3 linked regions of the Homo sapiens genome follow. The protein of the gene in region 1 interacts with the protein of each later gene in a biochemical or structural test. Each region holds a gene or a part of one and is shown on either strand. Other genes may lie near its edges.

Evidence for each region. The genes of interacting proteins can lie anywhere in the genome.
Region 2: of the proteins of PIAS1 (region 1) and CHD3, one has a biochemical effect on the other in vitro, tested with the Homo sapiens proteins (one study listed by BioGRID).
Region 3: the proteins of PIAS1 (region 1) and MBD1 form a complex in vitro, tested with the Homo sapiens proteins (one study listed by BioGRID).

What each region holds. Positions count from the first base shown.
Region 1 is NC_000015.10:68,085,293-68,092,314, reverse strand, and holds part of PIAS1 (E3 SUMO-protein ligase PIAS1), read right to left. Parts: intron 6,010-7,022; coding exon 5,565-6,009; intron 4,471-5,564; exon of another isoform or gene 4,425-4,470; intron 1-4,424. UniProt on the Homo sapiens protein: Functions as an E3-type small ubiquitin-like modifier (SUMO) ligase, stabilizing the interaction between UBE2I and the substrate, and as a SUMO-tethering factor. Catalyzes sumoylation of various proteins, such as CEBPB, MRE11, MTA1, PTK2 and PML.
Region 2 is NC_000017.11:7,891,781-7,898,802, forward strand, and holds part of CHD3 (chromodomain-helicase-DNA-binding protein 3), read left to right. Parts: intron 1-1,505; coding exon 1,506-1,789; intron 1,790-2,024; coding exon 2,025-2,155; intron 2,156-2,334; coding exon 2,335-2,485; intron 2,486-2,634; coding exon 2,635-2,828; intron 2,829-3,136; coding exon 3,137-3,370; intron 3,371-3,558; coding exon 3,559-3,762; intron 3,763-5,302; coding exon 5,303-5,514; intron 5,515-6,190; coding exon 6,191-6,322; intron 6,323-6,715; coding exon 6,716-6,815; intron 6,816-7,022.
Region 3 is NC_000018.10:50,278,510-50,285,990, forward strand, and holds the start of MBD1 (methyl-CpG-binding domain protein 1), read right to left. Parts: upstream 3,015-7,481; 5' UTR 2,854-3,014; exon of another isoform or gene 2,708-2,853; coding exon of another isoform or gene 2,655-2,707; intron 1,509-2,654; coding exon of another isoform or gene 1,484-1,508; coding exon 1,374-1,483; exon of another isoform or gene 1,367-1,373; intron 1-1,366. Other genes in the region: CXXC1 (CXXC-type zinc finger protein 1), read right to left, coding at 4,084-4,230, 4,345-4,497, 4,756-4,852, 5,006-5,055, 5,196-5,306, 5,385-5,592, 5,869-6,053, 6,211-6,330 and 3 more. UniProt on the Homo sapiens protein: Transcriptional repressor that binds CpG islands in promoters where the DNA is methylated at position 5 of cytosine within CpG dinucleotides. Binding is abolished by the presence of 7-mG that is produced by DNA damage by methylmethanesulfonate (MMS).

The sequences.
Region 1 (7,022 bases):
CTGTCGTCCCAGCTACTCAGGAGGCGAGGTGGGAGGATCGCTTGAGCCAGGAAGCGGAGGTTGCAGTGAGCCAAGAATGTGCCACTGCACTCCAGCCTGGGCAATACAGCGAGACCATCTCGGAAAAAAAAAGAAAAAAAATAAGTAACACTCATAGTCAATAATTATTATGCCTCATACCAATCAATGAGAAATCTCTAATCAATAAAGACATATGATGTGAACTTATTCAGATATATTGCCTGAGATATTTAAAAACTTGAAAAGACATCCCCTGAGAAGGTAAAATTTGACTTCAATCTCATATAAAGCAAACAAGATGAGTCACCATACTTTTATATGACTACAGATGGCTCGACTTAACAATTTTCCAACTTCATGGTGGTAAGAAAACAATAGGTATTCAGTAGAAATTACTTCGAGTACCTACACAACCATTCTGTTGGTAACAAAACCATTCTGTTTTTCACTTCAGTACGATATTCAATAAATTACATGAGCTATTCAATACTTAATTATAAAACAGGACTTGTGTTAGATGTTATGTCAGCTAATGTAAGTGTTTTAGACACATTTAAGGTAGGTTAAGCTAACCTATCATGTTTGGTAGGTTAAGTGTATTAAGTGCATTTCTGACTTTGGATATTTTCAATTTATGATGGATTTATTGGGACATAACCAGAGGAGTATCTGTAGTCCAAATGAATGCAAAGCTCTCTGTTCTATACATGTTGGCCTTTGAAATAATTAAAAATATTAAAAATATTTAAAAGCACTATATTAAAAATGTATTTTCTATTTGAAAATTTACCTGAGTCAAGGAAGATATAAATAGCTAAACTAGTAACAAATATAAATCTATTAATAGATTTGTTTATACTTAAGTCTGAATCAAATCAAATACTGTATCCTAAAGAACTATTATTTTATTTACCATGAAAGTATTCTGTGTTTTTGCCATTATGTTCTAACAAAGCCAATTTAAACAATAACTATAAACAATATTATAAACTATTTTGAATGATACAGGTATTATTCTAAACAAAACAATATTAAAGGATTGAGAGGAAATATCAAATAATTATCTTGTCCCTGAATGGACAAGATATTTTAATCCAAAATTATTTTTCCTTTTATTTTCATAATTATGTAAATTTCACACCTCATCAACACCAATATTGGCACACTAAGCAATAAGGTATTTCAAACAAAGTACCCCTTAACACATGTGCTCAACATCCTATCAAGATTAAAATTTTCTTCCATTATTTATATGGATCAATAATACATGCGGCTGCCAGGTTACGTGAGCTAGTGAGGTTCTCCTCTCCTTCAAAATGAAACCAGAAATACACACACACACACACACACACACACACACACACACCCGTAAATGACTAACAAAAAGAATACCACAGAAGTATTTTAAAAGTTTATCTGTAAAGTAAGCAAGTAATTATAATTTCTATGGATTCTACATTAAACATAACATTTTTGTAATTAGGGAAAATTTTTTTTAAATGGAGTATATTAAATTTCAAAGACATCAATTAACCTCAGAGATGACAGGATAGGGCAATAAGAGGAAGAATACCATTCTTCCCTACTCTATTTCCCATCCCTATCATAGCCACTGTTTGTAATTACAGAGTGTGGTATGGCTCAGTTGTGTTTGCAAGGTAAAATGGTTAAAATCCACTGAATTAAAATGAAATAAAAGATTCCATCTACTGCATTAAAACGAGTTGGAGAGCTAATAAATGTTTACTGAACTACCATGTAACAGGTTCATATCTAGCTATTATAGGGATTTATAGATAAATGCCTCAGAAGCCTTATCATTTTGAGGAACAAAACAAAAACATTTAATAAAGGGTAAATTAAATGTTAGGACAGCCTGGGCAACATAATGAGACCTCAACTCTACAAAACATAAAAACAAAAATCAGCCAGGTGTGGTGGTGCATGCCTGTGGTCTCAACTACTTGGGAGGCTGAGTTGGGAAAATTGCATGAGCCAGGGAGGTTAAGGCCACAGCAAACCAAGATCTCGCCGCCACATTCCAGCCTGGATGACAGAGCGAAACCCTGTCTCAAAAAATAATAATAATTATTATTATTATTAAATACAATTTAAGTTGGGTGTGGTGGCTGACGCCTGTAATCCTAGCACTTTGGGAGGCCAAGGTGGGAAGATCACTTGAGTCCAGGAGTTCGAGACCAGCCTGGCTGACATGATGAGACCCTGACTCTACTAAAAATACTAAAATTAGCCAGTCATGGTGGCACGTGTCTGTAGTCTGAGCTACTGGGGAGGCTGAGGTGGCAGAACTGCTTCAGCCGGAAAGACAGAGGTTGCAGTGAGCTGAGATTGTGCCAGTGCACTCCAGCCTGGGCAACAGAGCAAGACCCTGTCTCAAATAATAAAATAAAATAAAATTTAAAAAATAAATGTTATGAGGCCGGGTGCAGTGGCTCACACCTGTAATCCCAGCACTTTGGGAGGCCGAGGTGGGCGGATCAACTGAGGTCAGGAGCTCAAGACCACCCTGGCCAACATGGTGAAACCCTATCTCTACTAAAAATACAAAATTAGTCGGGCATGGTGGCACGTGCCTGTAAGTCTCAGCCACTTGGGAGGATGAAGCATGAAAATCACTTGAACCCAGTGGGGCGGAGGTTGCAGTGAGCCTAGATTGTGCCACTGCACTCCAGCCTGGGCTACAGAATGGGGCTCTGTCTCAAAAAAATAAAAATAAAAAATAAATGTTATGAGAGCATGCAGGGAAAGTGAAATTGATTCTGGCTGGGGAAGAAATGTACAGATGAAAGGAGGACAGCCTAGAAAGATAAATGAAAAAGGTTAAAGAAAAAAAGCATTTGAAATAAGCCTCATAGAAACAAACAGAATTGAGATAATGAGAGGCCAAAGTAAACAATAAATTAAACATCTTACTTTACAACCACCTTTTACTTCACCTCTCAATTCTTACAGTTAATTATGGACAATGAAAAGAATACTTTAATTATGGCTCCAAAATAAAGGCCTTAAAATTATTTTAAATTGTTTTAAAGAAATAACAAAATGATCGTAAGAATGAATGAGAATTACCTAATAAAATGGGAATTATCAGAACTACTGTCTTCCATTTTAGTTAGAAATACAAAACCATGCATAAAAACATTCAGTTTACATTTGAACATCTTAAAATCTGTTTAAATCTAGTGCTTAAGGCCACAATGGAAGGGAAAAAATGAAAAAGTAAATGTGCCTGTCCCATTCTGGACTCAGTGATAGTTGTGATCAACTAGCCAGCTGGTGTTCGAAACTATGTTCTCAAAAACTTGATTTTAAATGTATGTACGTTTAGAAATGAAGAGAATGCTGGAAGCTATTTAATTTTCCAGAAAACGTGGTTTTCTTAGATTTAAAACAAATGAACTACCGGCAAAAATAATCATTTAGGAAACTAAGTTATGTGACAAATGTAGCCACTTCATTTAATGAAGTACAGAAAAAGTCTTAATAATGTTAAAGAATTTATAAAAACAGAGCCTTAAAATATACTCATCCTACACCCTGAAGACTAATTACATAAAATCTTTTTTCAATAAATATTTTTCACATTCAATAAGCATTGCCCTTCAACAAATATTTATTGAGCCAATAAACTTCCACAAATTACTTTGTGGTGAGATCTTTTTATGCATATTAAATTGGTTTGTTTTTAATTCTATAACGATGAGATACTGAAAATCTATTTACATATCACTAAGCAATTCTATACCACCTATTCATTTGGTGACTTTCTGTGAATACATACCACAAACAGCAGATTTATTCATGAAAACTGGCATTCAAATCATACTTCAAATATAGTCAATTATTGCTATTTGTGACATTTATGTTCATAAAATCACCACAAACACTGAATTTGCGAATATATAATCACTGCTACCAGGGGAAGTATAGGGTTAGGTTCCTGCAAGCCCCTGGTCACAACGTTTTCATCAACTGATCAATACATAACACATATGTACACATACATACATGTACACAGACCATATACAGAGATATGGATAGATACAGATATGGCCTTTAATTTAAAATGGGATATATATATATATATATATATATACACACACATAATCAGACAGACAAGAAAAGATGCATATGATATATTATTAAGGGGAAAAAAGGGAAGTTATACAATACTATGTATATGATTCCTTCTGTAAAAAACAAGAAACAATTTGCTTATACTATATATGCATACACACTAAACAGCTAACAAGGAAGGAACTTTGGCAATTCCATTTTTTACAATGAGCATGTGTCAGTTTTATAAGCATACAGTAGATTCTCAAAAAATGTTTTCTTATTATGGCCACTTAAAAAATAAAATAATGTGATACAAAACTCACGTTGTTTGAAAATGACTCCTATAATCTTCGTGTATTCAGATAATTTCTGCTAAATATAATTAAAAACAAACACTTCATATTTCAAAGATAGAATTTCAGTAAACATTTTCAAAATGTTCTCAAAAATTCGCAAAAAATGTTCTCAACACTTGCCAGTCCCCCAAACTGAAATGTTCAATGATCTGTAACAGGGATTCACAAGCTTTTACTATACGGGTAAATATTTTGTGCTTTACAGGCACACATGGTCTCCGTTACACATTCTTTGTTTTTGTTTCTTTCCTTTTTTGTTAATAACTCTTTGGGAATATTTTTCAGATTTCTTAGCTCAGAACCACATAAAAACAGGCCACAGACTGGACTTAGCTTGCCAGCCGTAGTATGCCAACAAACCAGCATTTAGAAGTCTGATATTTTAAATATATTATACCAAAGGCATCAGAGGTCACAACAGTTGAGTTTTATTCTACGTTAAATAAATAAGGTAGCATTATAGCAATTAAAATTACAAGTTGATTAATATATTGAATTCTATATGCTAGACTACAAATCAAATGATGGAACAACACAGTAAAATAAATTTCAAGCACTTATATTATATAACCGTAATCATGAGTGTGCATGTGCATGTGCATGCCTGTAAAGCATGCACTTCTCCACTTGAAAAAAATCAGCTGAAATTTAACTAGCATACATCAAAGCTCAAGTCTCCTTTTATGATCATTAAAACCATTCACTCATTTAAATAATCAAAACTAGTCAGTGATTTGTTTTAGAGATCATCAACCCCTGAAAATTAAGAACTAATCAGAGACTTGTAGTGATTCATTTGGTTTTAATTTAATTTATGAGATATTATAAAATATTAATCAACCTTCTAAAATACTACTCTTTGGAAGTTTATATTCTTGAAACTTTTTAATATTTACTTTGTCAGTAACCATCACTATACTACCTTTTTTCCTGAAAGACAGCTTTTATATATTTGATTTTATCTAAATTTGAAAGATCTTCATTATTATCCAGCTGTTACTATCAAATGAAAATTTCATTATGAATAATAAACTGGGTCAAAGTAAAAGCCTAAAACGAAAATTCATCCTGCAAAAGTAACCAAATACTATCATACAATAATCTTACCTAGACTGGTGGGTTTTATCAGTTCATCCAGTAAATCATAAAATGGTAATTTTTGAAGTTTTATATCCGGATGGACTGGGTGAAGAGCTGATGTAAGATGTGGGAGTTCCAGTTCATGTTTAGGTCCCAGAAGAGAAACAGGGAGTAATGGCGATGATGCAGGGTGACCATCGTAAGTGAGTTGTGGAATGGTAGATGGAGACAAAGTTGCTGGCATAGGACTTGAATGTACGTTGGGGATGGACAAGTCTGCAGGCGTCATGATTTTCTGTGGGAACCGCCGCCTATAGAGTTCCTTAATTTTCATTTGCACAGCAGGACTACAGCCAGCCTTTAGCAAATGCAGGGCTTTTGTGAGAAGTTCGTGTTTGCGTCCGTGCTTGTTTCTCCCGGCGTAGCCCAACAGTACTTGGAGTTCAGAAACTCTAAGGCTCATAACCATTTGCTTAGAGAAAAAACAAAATGTAAAACATTAGTATTCCAATAATATAATTTACACTATTAAATGACACTTTATTATAACCCCCTTCTTATGGTTTACTTAAGCAAATAAAGGCCAGCTCACTTATAATCCTATTATTTCAAACTTCAAATTTAATCATTTAACGTTAAGTAACCAAAGAAATTTAAAATTAATATTCATAAATTCATTGACTTCTACCCTTGGTTATAAGAAATATAGGATAAAGTATACACCAGGGAAAACCACACCTCACTTTATTCCACTGTTTTGATGAAACTGTCAGGTATTTATCAAGCACTTACTGAGTCTCCAGGAGAATGTCGAGTGCTATGTAGATGGCAAAACGTAATGATGTGCTCTCAAGAATATTTTGTTTTCTTGGGGAAGAATTATAAGTATATATGAAACAACAAACAGTCCATCTCAAACACCAGATGTAGGCAGGATATCAATAGCTATTATCAAGTGTTACTTACATTCTGTACTAACTCTGGAATTTGTAGACTTAAGTTACACCTTTTTTGACCAATTATATATCAGATATTCTATTTGATATTTTCACATGGAATGTCATTATCTTTACAACTCCGCAAGGTATTATCCTGCCTGATTTATACATGAGGAGACAAGTTCAGAAAGGTTAGATAACTTATAAAGCCATAAAGCTACTAAGGAGTAGTCAGGATTCAAACCCAGATATGTCTGATTCTAAAGCCCATGCTCTTTCCACTAAACCATTAGGAAAAAGACAGAGCTGGACTCATATTACTGACTCTCACTTAACTTGCAAGGCCAAGCTAGAAGTCCAGCAACCCAATTCATATGCCATAATGCATGAGGCTGCAGTAATCTATTTAACTTTGTTTACCTATGTTCGCAAACTTATTTAGTCCCCCTTTCTCCTTTTTCCCCACCTACTAATAGGAAATGACCATCTATACCAATCCTCCCATTTTAAAGTGGTGGAAAATGGAATCCAAAGAGAAGAAATCACT
Region 2 (7,022 bases), on another chromosome or scaffold:
AACCCGGGAGGCAAAGGTTGTAGTGAGCCGAGATCACACCACTGCTATGCTCTAGCCTGGGCAACAAGCGAAACTCCGTCTCAAAAAAAAAAAAAGAAAAAATAGTGCCGATGTATTTTGTTTTGGGGAGAAGGCACTTTAACATATCAGTTCAGTGCTCTGGAGGCAGCTGCTGAGGTTCACATCTGGTTACATTTTGGGCAAGTGACTGAACTTCTTCAATCCTCAATTTCCTCTTCTATAAACGGGGAATAATAATATATACCTCATAGGAATCTGTGTGGGTTTGGTGGGATAATGAATGGAAAGCACAGTACCGTCAGTGCCTGGCTCCTAGGGAGCATTCAGTAACTGGTGACTGTCATTAGTAACGTTGTCTCACCTACCTTACTGCTGAACTTGGGGCTTTTCTCAGCACCATGGATCACCCGTGTCCGCACAAGAGTTGAGCACCCCACCCCAGAGCAGAACCAGCATGGTCTGACTCTTTCACACTCCGTCCTACGGAAGCCCATCTTCAGGGCCCATGGAACTTACTAGTAAAATGCAGAGAATCATAGCAACTCAAGAGTATTATTGTGAGGACAAGATAAGGTGGAATGTATGTGAAAGGGTTTTATGAACTGTAAAGTAGTATACAAAAGTAAAGCATTTTTGTTGATTTTATTTTAACCTTTTATGCTTTTAAGTTTTATTTCGCTGTTTTTTATTTCCCCTTTTTTTTTTTTTTTTTTTGAGATGGAATCTCACTCTGTCGCCAGGCTGGAGTGTAGTGGCGCAATCTTGGCTCACTGCAACCTCTGCCTCCCAGGTTCAAGCAATTTTTCTGCCTCAGCCTCCCGAGTAGCTGAGACTACAGGTGCGCACCACTACACCCAGCTAATTTTTGTATTTTTAGTAGAGACGGGGTTTCGCCATGTTGGCCAGGATGGTCTCCATCTCTTGACCTCGTGATCCTCCCACCTTGGCCTCCCAAAGTACTGGGATTACAGGCGTGAGCCACTGCGCCCAGCCTATTTCCCTTTTTTTAAAGACAGGGTCTCATTCTGTCACCCAGGCTGCACTGCAGTGGTGTGATCATAGCTCACTATATCCTCCAACTCCTGGGCTCAAGCCACCCTCCTGCCTCAGCCTCAGGTGCTGCCACACCCAGCTAATTATTTTTTTTTATTTTAATTTTTTGTAGAGACAGGATCTCACTTTGTTGCCCAGGCTTATCTCATAGCCCTGGGCTCAAGCAATCCTCCTGCTTCAGCCTGGAATTACAGGCATGAGCCACCGTGCCTGGCCTGTATTTCTTTTTTAATGCTTTTTTAAACCTGTTCTTTCCCCGCTTTTTTTAAACTTCTTTTTATTTATTTTTTTAAATGGCTGTTTTTCCTAATAGGACATATTCTCACCACCCAGGAATCCTAGCATGTACATAGATTTAATTGATGAGGGGAGATGGCAGTGTTCCCAGACCATCTGTGAAGGGTCCGAGTTTTCTGCTTCTATATTTACAGGCCCCTAATTGCTAAGAAGAATCCTAAGATCCCAATGTCTAAGATGATGACCATCCTTGGGGCCAAATGGAGAGAGTTCAGTGCCAACAACCCCTTCAAGGGGTCAGCAGCTGCTGTGGCGGCGGCAGCGGCAGCAGCAGCAGCAGCTGTAGCTGAGCAGGTGTCAGCTGCTGTCTCGTCGGCCACCCCCATAGCACCCTCCGGACCCCCCGCCCTTCCACCACCCCCTGCTGCTGATATCCAGCCCCCACCCATCCGAAGAGCCAAAACCAAAGAGGGCAAAGGTAGGGAACTCTCTTCCAACAACTGTCATCTCACCTTCCAAACTGCATGTCTTCACATTAGAGTCTGGAACTCTCGCCTTCCCAGCCCTGATTGCTGGAGGAGAGATGCTTTCCAGGAAGTGGGGCTTAGTGAAACCACAGCCCACAGAGGAATCCAGAGGCCCCTGTGACCTCCATAATTCCAGGATGTCATGACCTCTCCTTTTTCCTCTTCTCACCCCGACTCCTCATTCAGGTCCAGGCCATAAGAGGCGGAGTAAGAGCCCCCGAGTGCCTGATGGACGCAAGAAGCTTCGGGGAAAGAAAATGGCACCACTCAAAATAAAACTAGGGCTTCTGGGTGGCAAGAGGAAGAAAGGAGGCTCGGTGAGTGACCCGTCCCTGTCTACTAAACACCTGGGGGCCAAGGATCCAGAGACAGGGATCCGTGAGGGCCAAGGATCCAGAGACAGGGATCCGTGAGGGATGGCGGAACAGGAAGCCAAAGGCCTGGGGAGGGCGTAGAATGAAGTCTGCCTCACTGACGGCCACGGGGCTATGGGCAGTATGTTTTTCAGAGCGACGAAGGTCCTGAACCAGAGGCTGAGGAATCAGACCTGGACAGTGGCAGTGTCCACAGTGCCTCAGGCCGGCCTGATGGCCCTGTCCGCACCAAGAAACTAAAGAGAGGCCGGCCAGGAAGGAAGAAGAAGAAGGGTAAGGAGTGTTGACTGTGTGTGATCCTGTCAGTGGGCCGTCCTCTCATTCTTATTTTCAATTTTGACTTCTCTCTTCAACCCTTCTCCCTCTCTCTCTCCATCTCCCCCTGCCCTGCTTCCTTATCCCTCCACCGGGGTATATGACAGTCCTGGGCTGTCCTGCAGTGGCCGGGGAGGAGGAGGTTGATGGCTACGAGACGGATCACCAGGATTACTGTGAGGTGTGCCAGCAGGGTGGGGAAATTATTCTGTGTGACACCTGCCCTCGTGCCTACCACCTCGTCTGCCTTGATCCTGAGCTTGACCGGGCTCCAGAGGGCAAATGGAGCTGCCCTCACTGTGTGAGTACCTAATGCCAGCATCTGATGGCCCTGAGGAACCCACCCATCTCTTTCCCCCTTGGTTTCACTTACCCTCTTCCTGCCCCCAGATGGCTGGACTTCTTAGTAACAGATGTCCGAGTGTCTAGGATCCTAATGTATTCCTTTCTCCCACAATCAACATTTCTGAAACTGGAGTGTCCTTTTCCTTAGTTCCCACCAGTCTTCTCTGCACTTCTAGGATTCAGGTGTCCTGTCTTTGCCTGTATCTTCCAGTTTCATTCCTTAATTTCTTCCATCTGTCTGTGTGTCTATCCTTGGCCCCCTAGGAGAAGGAGGGGGTCCAGTGGGAGGCCAAGGAGGAAGAAGAAGAATACGAAGAGGAGGGAGAGGAAGAAGGGGAGAAGGAGGAGGAGGATGATCACATGGAGTACTGCCGCGTATGCAAGGACGGCGGGGAGCTCCTGTGCTGTGACGCGTGCATCTCCTCCTACCACATTCATTGTCTAAACCCTCCCCTGCCTGACATTCCCAATGGTGAATGGCTGTGTCCCCGATGCACAGTGAGTGGAAACATCTCCCCTCTGTATTTACTGTCAGGCCTGATCCCTTCCCCCATCCCTGGGGCCCACATGTCCAGCTTTTCATTTCTCTGCACTCCCCCACCCTTGTGGGACCCCTATCTTCTCATCTAACAATGGGTTCTTTCTGCCTCTTTCTTTCCTCCTCCTTGTACGTGTCCATCCCAAAGTGCCCCGTGCTGAAGGGTCGAGTGCAGAAGATCCTACATTGGCGGTGGGGGGAGCCACCTGTAGCAGTGCCAGCCCCTCAACAGGCAGATGGAAATCCAGATGTCCCACCCCCCCGTCCTCTTCAAGGCAGATCAGAGCGAGAGTTCTTTGTCAAGTGGGTAGGACTATCCTACTGGCACTGCTCCTGGGCCAAGGAGCTTCAGGTACTAGGACCTTTTCTTTCCCTCTCCCCCATGACCTCATTTCCTGCCATCCTCTCCCTCTCTTACTCCTCTGTTTGTTGGGTTCCCATACTCTTTGTTTTCTCTCATTTCAGGCCTGTGGCCTTCATACCCTACTTGCTTAGTTTCCATATGTGGTTCTTTTGGTCTACAGTCCTCTTTCTCTCAGTCTCCGTTAGCTTCCTTCCCTCAGATATAGCATAGCCTTTCCTAACTTCATGTCCTTCCTTATCTGTCTTTTTCCATGTTTTATAATATTCCTGGCTGGGCATGGTGGCTCACACCTATAATCCTAGCACTTTGGGAGGCCAAGGCAGGAGGATTGCTTGAGACCAGCCTGGGCAACATAGTGAAACCCCATCTCTGTTTAAAAAAAAATTCTCGGCTGGGTGTGGTGGCTCACGCCTGTAATCCCAGTACTTTGGGAGGCCGAGGTGGGCGGATCACCTGAGGTCAGGAGATCGAGACTATCCTGGCTAACATGGTGAAACCCCATCTCTACTAAAAATACAAAAAAATTAGCTGGGCGTGGTGGCAGGCACCTGTAGTCCCAGCTACTCAGGAGGCTGAGACAGGAGAATGGCGTGAACCCGGGAGGCGGAGCTTGCAGTGAGCCAAGATCGTGTCCCTGCACTTCAGCCTGGGCGACAGAGCGACACTCTATCTCAAAAAAAAAAAAAAAAAAAAAAAAATTCTCAATGTTTCTAATCCCATTCCCTATCTCTTGCTTGTAAGAGCCCCACCCAGGCCTTGTCTTCTGAAACTGTTGCATCTGTTTCATTTTATTTATTCTCCGTCTTGGCTTTGACTCATTTATCTCTAATCCATCCTTTTTCTTTTTTTTTCTATTTTTTTTTTTTTTTAGATGGAGTTTCGCTCTTGTTGCCTAGGCTGGAGTGCAGTGGCACGATCTTGGCTTACTGCAACCTCTGCCTCCTGGGTTCAAGCGATTCTCCTGCCTCAGCCACTCAAGTAGCTGGGATTACAGGCATGCGCCACCACGCTTGGCTAATTTTGTATTTTTAGTAGAGACGGGGTTTCTCCATGTTGATCAGGCTGGTCTCGAACTCCCAACCTCAGGTGATCCACCTGCCTCTGCCTCCCAAAGTGCTGGGACGCGCCTGTTATTCTCTTATTGCCCCGGCTGGAGTGCAGTGGTGTGATCTTGGCTCGCTGCAACCTCCGCCTCATGCATTCAAGCGATTCTCCTGCCTCAGCCTCCTGAGTATCTGGGATTACAGGCGTGCGCCACCACACCTGGCTAATTTCTGTATTTTTAGTAGAGACGGGGTTTCGCCATGTTGGCCAGGCTGGTCTTGAACTCCTGACCTCAGGTGATCCACCCGCCTGAGCCTCCTAAAGCACTGGGATTACAGGCATGAGCCACCGTGCCTGGGCCAATCCATCCTTTTTCATAGCTCCCTTTCCCTGTCCCATTCCTCCTGCCGGCCTCTTCCCGGTTCCTTGTTGTCCTCTGTGAGTGTCAGGACTATCTCTTTCCCTTTTTTCTGTGCCCTGCTAGCTGGAAATCTTCCATTTGGTTATGTATCGAAACTACCAGCGGAAGAATGACATGGATGAGCCCCCACCCCTGGACTATGGCTCCGGCGAGGATGATGGGAAGAGCGACAAGCGTAAAGTGAAAGACCCGCACTATGCTGAGATGGAGGAGAAGTACTATCGTTTTGGCATCAAGCCAGAGTGGATGACCGTCCACCGCATCATCAACCACAGGTGAATCCTCGGTCCCTGGGAAGTCAGACCTGGTATATGACATTATTCTTACCATGGTGATGGCCCCATGTTAGTATTTGCTGATTAACCAGGTAATTGATCTAACCTTGATAACCTCTGCTGTAGCTCCAGCCTTTCTGGCCTTGTTTCCTCCAGGGGAACGGGAGAAAACAGGAGGAAAATCCGGCCAGGCAGTGCCTCTTTTGTCCTTTGCCTCCTGTCATCTCCAGTGGCATAAGACATAGCACATGAGTCTGGGGATGAGGGCATGAAAGCAAAACATGAGAGACATAATTCATCCAGACCAGTGTTTTGAATGTTTCTTCTTCATAGTACTTATTACTGCCTAAACTTAATGGTATGTATTTAGTTATTTCAATGCTGCCTTCCCCACGAGACTCTGAGTTCCATGAGGAAAATACTTAGTGATTAGGTGAACAAATGATAAGGAGGGATCTCCAGGAATGTTTTGTGATAGCTGATTTTTAGGATACCATCCTGAGAAGGTTAGGCTGCTAGGTCAACTATTCCAATCTCCCTTCCAGCAGCTCACTGTTGACGGTTGGGTGACAAATTTTGTGTGTTTGCTGATAATTGCGTTTCTCAGGCCTTCTTTCTGTTTGTGATCTGTGCAATATTTTCCTCCTGCTCCTCCCCATGGCCTCCTGCCCCACAGTGTGGATAAAAAGGGGAATTACCACTATCTAGTAAAATGGAGGGACTTACCATATGACCAGTCCACGTGGGAGGAAGATGAAATGAATATCCCTGAATACGAAGAACATAAGCAAAGCTACTGGAGACACCGGTGAGGGAATGAGCTTGTGGATTCAAGGGATTCTGACGATGAGGGCATGAAAGCCAAAACTCCAGCATAAAATGAGGGTACAGTAGGGCCTGATTCAACCTGGAGTTCAGGGCAATGGCCACCTGAGCTGGGTTGTTTGAGATAGGCTTGCTAAAGAGGTAGTGTAAGGAACAGAAACAAGATCTGGCTGAGTAGTGGAGAAGAGGATGTTCAAGAGTGGGGAGGGCTGGCTCTTGAGGTGAAATCCAAAGGGCAAGGGTAAAGAGCCTGGGAAAAAGGAAATATGGGAAAATCTAGGTCATGGACAGTGGGAAGTAGGTCTGGAATGGGTTCAGAAAAGAAAGCGTAGGACTCCCAAGGATGAGGCCTCATTCAGACCCACTCTTTTTCCAGAGAACTAATTATGGGGGAAGACCCTGCCCAGCCCCGCAAGTATAAGAAGAAGAAGAAGGAGCTACAGGGTGATGGGCCTCCCAGTTCTCCCACTAATGATGTGAGTCCTCTCAGTTGTCATTTCTTGTTTCTGGAGTGATGGTGATCGAAGATTTTCCAAGGGCTACTGATGGAACTTCCCAGAGATTCAGTAACCTCTGTGAACAGTAGCTCTTCCTTCAGCATCCAGTCTTGCCCCAAGAGTGGCTAAGAATTTTGGCCTGAAAGGGCAGGAGCCACTAGAGATAGCCCACTGGTGGCTCTGTCA
Region 3 (7,481 bases), on another chromosome or scaffold:
TTTTGAAAGTTTTATACAAGTACATAAATATGTGAATAAATTATAACTAAATATAAACAAAAAGTAATTTGTAATTTGATATTTACCTGGAAAGATAGCAACTTAGATTTAAAAAATCAGAAAGAATATAGAAACTTAATAATGTTTCTTAAACACATGTAAATGCTTATAAACATCTATGTTGACTCTCATTAGTTATGGTAGTTACGTTCTACAAAGCTATCATGAACATTGAATACAAAACCATTGCTCCTAGAAGAAATACAGGGTTAGGTTCCTGAGAGCATCTGAACTTTTGTTTTGTGTGTGTTTCTGTTTAAACACACATTACTTAATACATATTTTTTTTTACAAATGATTATTTGCATGGTCTTTGAATGACTCAAACCAGGGGACTTGGAGGCCGTATGTGTTATGTAAGGTTTTTTGCCAATATTCTTGTTTAACAAGCCAATCTCATTGACATTGAAAACCACTCTTCCACACAACCCCTTTCCTGTACAACACTTAACAGGTATTTTTAAAATTCTTCGGAAGACTCCTGATCAGCAGAACCTGCATTGCATGCAGGTTTAACATGTTTCATGCCATGTCGCCTTTTGAAATGTGCAAGTCAGCCAGCACTAGCTGATATAACCTTAATATTTTCCTAACCCAGGGTAACATGACTTTGGCTTTCCTCAACAATGCTGTCAACTATGCTTTATTGATCGTCATTTCATGAACCCACCAATGTAGCTGCTTTCTCATCTCTTACATAGCTTCAAGACTATAAATGCTTTCTGTACTTTCTGAAGCAGCTTTGTGCACATATTGGCAAATTTCCTTCTTTTTCTGGTTGTACCATAATTCTGATGCATAACATTGAACTTACAGCCAACAGCATTGTAACTCAGATAACCAGCAAAGTTTATCTGCCTTGTATTTTCTCCATAAAGCACGACATAGTCTTCTCACAGAACACTAAACAGCACCTCAGCACTATGCTTGGGGACCATTTTAAAAAGCAAAATCACCAAAAAGTACAAAAATTAGAAAAATGTGACACTAAACAGACCACGAAAAGGACACCTGTTTACAGTATTAAAGCTGAAAAGGGCTCCTTCAGCCTCAGCTAGAAATACATGCATTGAGTGACAGTTTTTCACTGCTCTGTACGTATTCTTGAATAATCACAAATGCACTGTGAGTAGTGACTTTTAAGTTACAAATAAATTTTATTAAGTAGGTGAAATTCAAACATAAAATCCGCTAATAAGGATTAACTGTATGTGCATAATTTAAACTTCATCCATAAATTTAACCACACCATTTGATTTTACCAGAATCAGGCTCTACCCCACTCCTGACTCTGCCCACTACCCACCCAGTACCTCTGGTAATAGGTGTCTGAGCGTCCACAGGTGGCCCCTGACTTGCGAAAGACTTCGCGGCGCTTCCAGCCAGGGCCCAGGGCCGGGCAGTCCAGCCAGTCCTCAGCCATGGAGGCCACAGGAAGCAGCAGTAGCCTGAAAGGGGGTGGAAGGGATGAGGGAAACTGAGGCTCTAGGAAGGGACAACACTGTGCCCCAGGCCACACAAATCACTGGTATCCATTAGTGCTTGCCCAAGCCCTAGGACCTGCCACAGGCAACCAGCCCATATATGGAAAAGAAACCCCTCATATTCTCACCCCATTCTTTCCTATTCTGGGCCTAGGATATCATCATTCCTCAACCCAAGGATCCCTGTTTCTTATTCTCAGTGTCCTAATCCCCTACTCCTCTCTATCCTCAGACTGACAACCCATCATTTCTCCTCACTGCCAATCCAGAAACTTTTCATCCTTCCCCCTCATTCCTCCCTGTCACTGACCTAAGGGCCTCTATCCCTCTATTTTATCACCCCAAGACCCCCATAGTCCCCATCCTCAGCCCCAAAGGGCCCCATTTCTCTTGCCCTCACTACTTGACTTCAGTAGTCTCTCATTCCCCCCTTCCTTGACCCAGGAGTTCCTAATTTCCCTCCTTCAGTGTTTTAACCACTCCATTCCTTCTCTGCCTGATGTCCTCTTATCCTGCTACCTCAGTGTTACAACCTCGACTTCCTCTGCGAGACACAACTGCTCCAACCCATAGCCTGAACAGCCCCTCATCTTTTCCATTCCTCACACTGGAAGCCTCCCATGCCTCCCCTTCCTCAGCCCAAGACCTCCCCCCTTATTTTTCTTCTCCTTCAATGTTCTCACCCACAATTTCTCCCTAGTCTGAGCTCCCAAACCTTCCTCTACAGCCAAAAAGTTCCCCACTTCTCCTCCTTACTGTTCTCATCCTCCATTCCTCCCTTATCATCCAGAGAGACCCTAATTTCTCCCCTCAGCATTCCGAACCCTCCTCCATTCTCTCTGTTCTTGTCCCGGGATCATGCCATCCCTAACTGTCACCATTCTGATCCCCTACTGCTCCTCGTCCTCTATATGGGGCCTCCTATTCCTCCCTTTCAGCATTCCAAAGCCTCTATTTCTCCTGTCATCAGCCTGAGGGCCCCTCATTTCTCCCTCTCAGAGTTCTGAACCCCCATTTCTCTCTCAACTTCAGATGCCCCGATGTCTCCCTTTAGCGTTCTGATCTCCACCATTCCTCTCCGTCCTCGTCCCAGGATCCCGACACTCCTACCTGTCAGAGTTCAGAGCTGCATTCCTTCCCGTCCTCAGCCTAAATCCCCCCATTTCTCCTCGTCAGTATTCCGACGCCGCCATTCCTCCCCCTTATCGGCCTGAGGGCCCTTCATTCCTCCCCGTCAGCGTTCTGAGCCACAATTCCTTCCCATCCTCCGCCTGAGCGCTCTCCACGTCCAGCCCCAAGGCTGTCTCACCAGTTTGGCACCAGGCCGGTATCTTCCGCCACTCTAGGCCCGTGGACCCATGGCGAGGGTCCCTCCTGCACCTCCCGCCTCGCCCTCCTCCCCTTCCTCCTCCTCCGCGGCCGCCTCCTCTGAAGCGGTAGCTGTCGCCTCCGCGGCTGTTCGTTGCTCCCGGAACCGGAAGTCCGCTGCCTGCCTCTCGGGCTCCGCCTCTGGCTAAGCACCTGCGCACTATTGCCTCGATGTCGCGTGCCCTTAATAGGGAGGCTCCCGCGCCTACGGGCCGGCGCTCCGCAGCGGTGCGCGCGCCCCCCTGCCGAGAGCCAGTTGCATCTGCGTGCTGACGTTCAACGACAGCTAACCCCTTCGAGGGACTGGCAGTTGCGGCTCTCCTCGCTGCCCATCTAGCTGGCGCATGCGCTTTCCAGCCTCAACCTGAAGGGAAGCGGTCGGGGAGGGCTTGCGCCTGCGCCCTCCCTTCCCTCCCGCGGTCTCCACAGCCGATACCGAACGCGGCAAGGAAGCTGCTTCGCGCCTGCGCACTCCCTGGCCCTGCCGGCGCTCTCCTCTCCCACCTCTCGCTGGGGTCTATCCTGTGTTCGTGGGTCCCTCCGAACATCAACCCCAGGGGGGGTCGTGTCCCGCTCCCTCCTCCCCGCCGAACAGCTGTGGGAGCGCGCGGGGCGGGGAAAGGGGCGGTGCCACACCGCAGGTAAACTGAGGCACGCGGGAGGGCGCGCCCCTGCAGGAGGCGGATCCCCAACGTGGGGCTTGTGGGGAAAAGGCGGGGCCTGGCGTCCACAGCGGACGACAGCTCTGGGTGGGAGACAGGAGCATGCATGGGCGGTGTCACCACACTGAAGGCGCGCTGCGTAGACCCTCTGCCCGTGGGAGGCTGGGAATGTGGGTCCCTGGGCTCTCGCGGGGTGCAGGCGCCCCCCATCTTATCCAGAAGTCTGGAACAGTTGCAACCGCAGCAATGTGGAGACAGCTTCCTTGGTTTCTTCAAAATTTTATTAACAAAACCCAGGGAGAGGAGGCAAGGATGAGTGGACTCCGCAGCCCCACCAGGCACTGAACATGTCGACGGGGACAGTCCCTCTGATAAAGGCAGATGGGCGGTCAACCGGTGGATGGGCACAGGGAGAACCGGAGAAACAGATGAGTGGAGGAACGGACACACGGGCACCGGGCGGCTCCCCCATCTGGAATGCAGGGTGTAAGGGGTCCGGGCCAGGAGGCTCAGCGGTCGGCACTGGAGCGCAGGTCGGTAGTGAGGGGATCGTGCTGGATCGTCTGGTGCAGCATCAGGGCCAGCAATCCCGCGCGGTTTGTCATGGCTGTGCGCACATTGCGCTCCTGCTCAAACAGCTCGTCCAGCTTGTACCACTGCCAAGGGAGCGGCAGGAGTCCTAAGCAGGAACACCTGCAGCCCCGCCTGCCCCGGCCACGTCCGACATGGAAACCTACCACATGCAGCACCAAAACCGCACAGAAACCTACCACACGCACGCGCTCCAAGTCCACTTCCGCACGCCGCAGCTTCTCCCAGCAGTAATGGCGATTGCACTGGCGCTTGGGCAGGCGGCAGAAGTCACCCGTGAGCTCAAAGACATCACGTACAAGGGGGCACCCGCATACCTCGTCAGCTGGCACCTGCAAGGAGGCCAGGTTGGGGGGATGAATAGCGGTGATAAGGGAGAATAGGAATGGGGGCTCAAGGAGGGAGAAGGAAAAGAATGGAGGGTTCAGGGAACGGTGAGGAGGCATGGAAAAGGAGGAATGGAGGGTGAAGCAGCAGGGAAGCTGAGAGGAAAAAGTGAAGGAAAAGTGAGGTGAGGAAGGAAGGGATGAATGTGGGACAGCGAGGCAGGGAGGAGGGGCAAAATGGGAGGAGCTGAGGGAAAACCTTACTTTGGGGTCCCGTGAGTGCTCGGGGCACAGCACCTGGAGCCGCTTACAGTATGTTTTGCTCTGAGGATTATACACATCACAGAAGAGTCGTGTGGCCCTGGGGATTTGGAGTAGAGAGGGCAGTAGAGGGAGGGAAGGGAGGTCCATCTGTCCTGGCTGGTTGCCCGTATCCTGCCCCAGCTCCACACACATCCCACTTCTGACCCCCGCCTTAACCCCCCACCTCTCACTGCGTGGCACCCTCACTTACCCTTCAATGCGTGTGGGGTACATGGACCCAAAGGACGTCTGGCTCTCATACTGGAGGGATGAGCACAAATGGAGGGAACTGTGGATGTGCGCTGCATGCCCTCCCAAGACACCACCCAGACAACAAATCTGTCCCCCACTGGCCCACTGATGTTCCCACATGGTCCGCCCCCTCAGTCTGACACCCCAACCTTGGCGTAGCAGCGCTCCATGTGGCGCAAGGCAACACGTGGGTTGATGGGGTGCCCACAGGAAACACAGAAGATCTGCAGGTCTGTGTCATCACTGTCACCCTCGTTGCTCTGCATGGAATGGAAGGAACAATAAGGCTGGGAAGGACAAAGTACAGGCCCTGCTCTGCTGCGCCCCTGCTTGCTCACCTCCTCATCCTCGCGCACAGCCTGCTGCTTGGCACGTAGAATGATGGCCTCAAGCTCATGGAATCGGCGTTCCATTTCCTGAAGGCGAGTGCGGGCACTCTGCTGCTCTCGGCGAATGCGTTCGAGCAGCTTCTTGCCGTGCTCTTCAGCAATGCAAGGGCTCTGCTGCCACTGCTGGATGCGCTGGGGGAGGATCTCGTAGATGCGGCTGCAGGGAAGGTAGCAAGCAACAGAATGAGTGAGGTGATCAGTAAGTGAGAATGGCAAAATAGACGCAAATGGCAAAAGGAGAAGTAAATAGGTGACTGGCGGAATGGTGGCTGGATGGACACACGGGCAGGTGGGTGGGTAGGTGGATGGGTGAGTGGGTAGTGGCTGTTTGGTGACTGGTGGATAGCTGATTGACTGGTAGACATACAGAAGGCTGTGGTCAGGCCCTACCATGCACTTCCTGACTCCCTTGAACCTCTCAGGAATGACTCACTTGGCTGCCAGCTTCATGCCACAGTCATCTGAGCAATACTTGGAGCTGGGCTGGGCGGGGCGCACACAGCCGGGCCCCAGGCACTGGGGCAGTGACGCAGGGTCCTTGGCATCAGCCCTCTCTGGGTGTTTCCATTTATCCTTGTGCTTCTGCTTCTGCCGATGCCGCTTGTATCGCTCCTCCTTCTGTTGAGCAAGACAAGTCAGGTCAGGGTGGAGTCAAAGTCAGCCCCAGACCCCAGACCCTTGCTCCATTCTAGCCCTTTCTGGCTCTTGCCCCATTCAGCCTCTGACCTCTGCCTCTCCCTCAACCCCACCCTCTGCCTTTCCACATCCACTTTACCCTCTCCATCACCTTCTTCTCAGACTTCTTCTCCCGACGCTTCACATGCTTCACTTTCACTGCCCTCTTCCGCAGCGCGGGGTCCAGGAATGGGGACTCTTCTGTGTCGCTCATCCAGGGCTGCAAGCAGGGCATGCACTGACCCACCTGCCCCGCTCGTGACAACCCCACCACCTACTCATGTCCCATATCAGCCTTCCATACCCTCTGTCTCCTCATTAGGGATACTCTCTGCTTCTGTAACCTCCACCCTTCCACCAGTGGATGCTCCTGTCTGCTCACCAGGCCATGGTCATCAAAGGCCCCTGCACAGAAGTCCTGATACAGGTCAGGATCCAGAGGTAGGTCCTCATCTGAGAGTGGCTCAGGTGTGGCTGTAGCCTCAGGAGGCTCCTTGACTGTTGATGACGCCACTGCCCCCTCATCTTCACGGATGCGCCCTAACTTCTGTGATGGCTGTGGCTGCTGTTGGGTGGGCAGTGGCCGGCGGGGCCTTGGCAGGGACTCTGAGGGCGTCACTGGTGAGAGCTGCAGGGCAGAATCTCAGGACTGGCCCTGACCGCCCTGCCCGCATGCCCCACCCCACCCTGGGGGGCTGGACTCACCGAGGAAGGGAAGTACTTGTACGATTCCTGTGCCGGCAGGAGGAAGGCCCAGGTCAGCCCCAGGTGGATGGAGGGCGGCCTTGCCCTAGCCCTACCCACCTGGCCTGGCCTTACCTCCCCAGACACACCTCCCCGCTACCCCTCATTGCCAGGAATGCTCAGCCCTGCCTGATCTGTACCAACATGCATGACCACCTGAAAACACCTGGCCCCACTCTGTCTACCCAGGGTTGGTGGGGGTGTTCTGCCAGCCCAGCATACCAGGTCATGCCCCATTCATCTGGACATGACAGGCCCCTTCCCACCTGTCAGGATACAGTCAGGCCCAATCCCACCTGGTTTATCCATGCCTAGACTTAACTAACCATGCATGGACCCACCAGCTCTCCCACACCTGACCCTACCCAGCTCTGTCCATGCTCACCCGGGCCCGCAGCTGGCACTGGCGCAGCCGGCACTTCTGCCGGATCTTGTTGGGGCCCCCGAACTTCTTCATGTCCCGACAGAAATCACAGTGACCACAGTCCTCAGTGCGCCGACATGCCTCACACTCACCACACATGCGGGCTGACCGTTTGATCTGCTGCTGCTGCTGCTGGTGATGCTGCAGGAGGGGGCCCAGAACAGAAATCATGGACCCAGGCAGGGCTGAAACGGAACCACTTT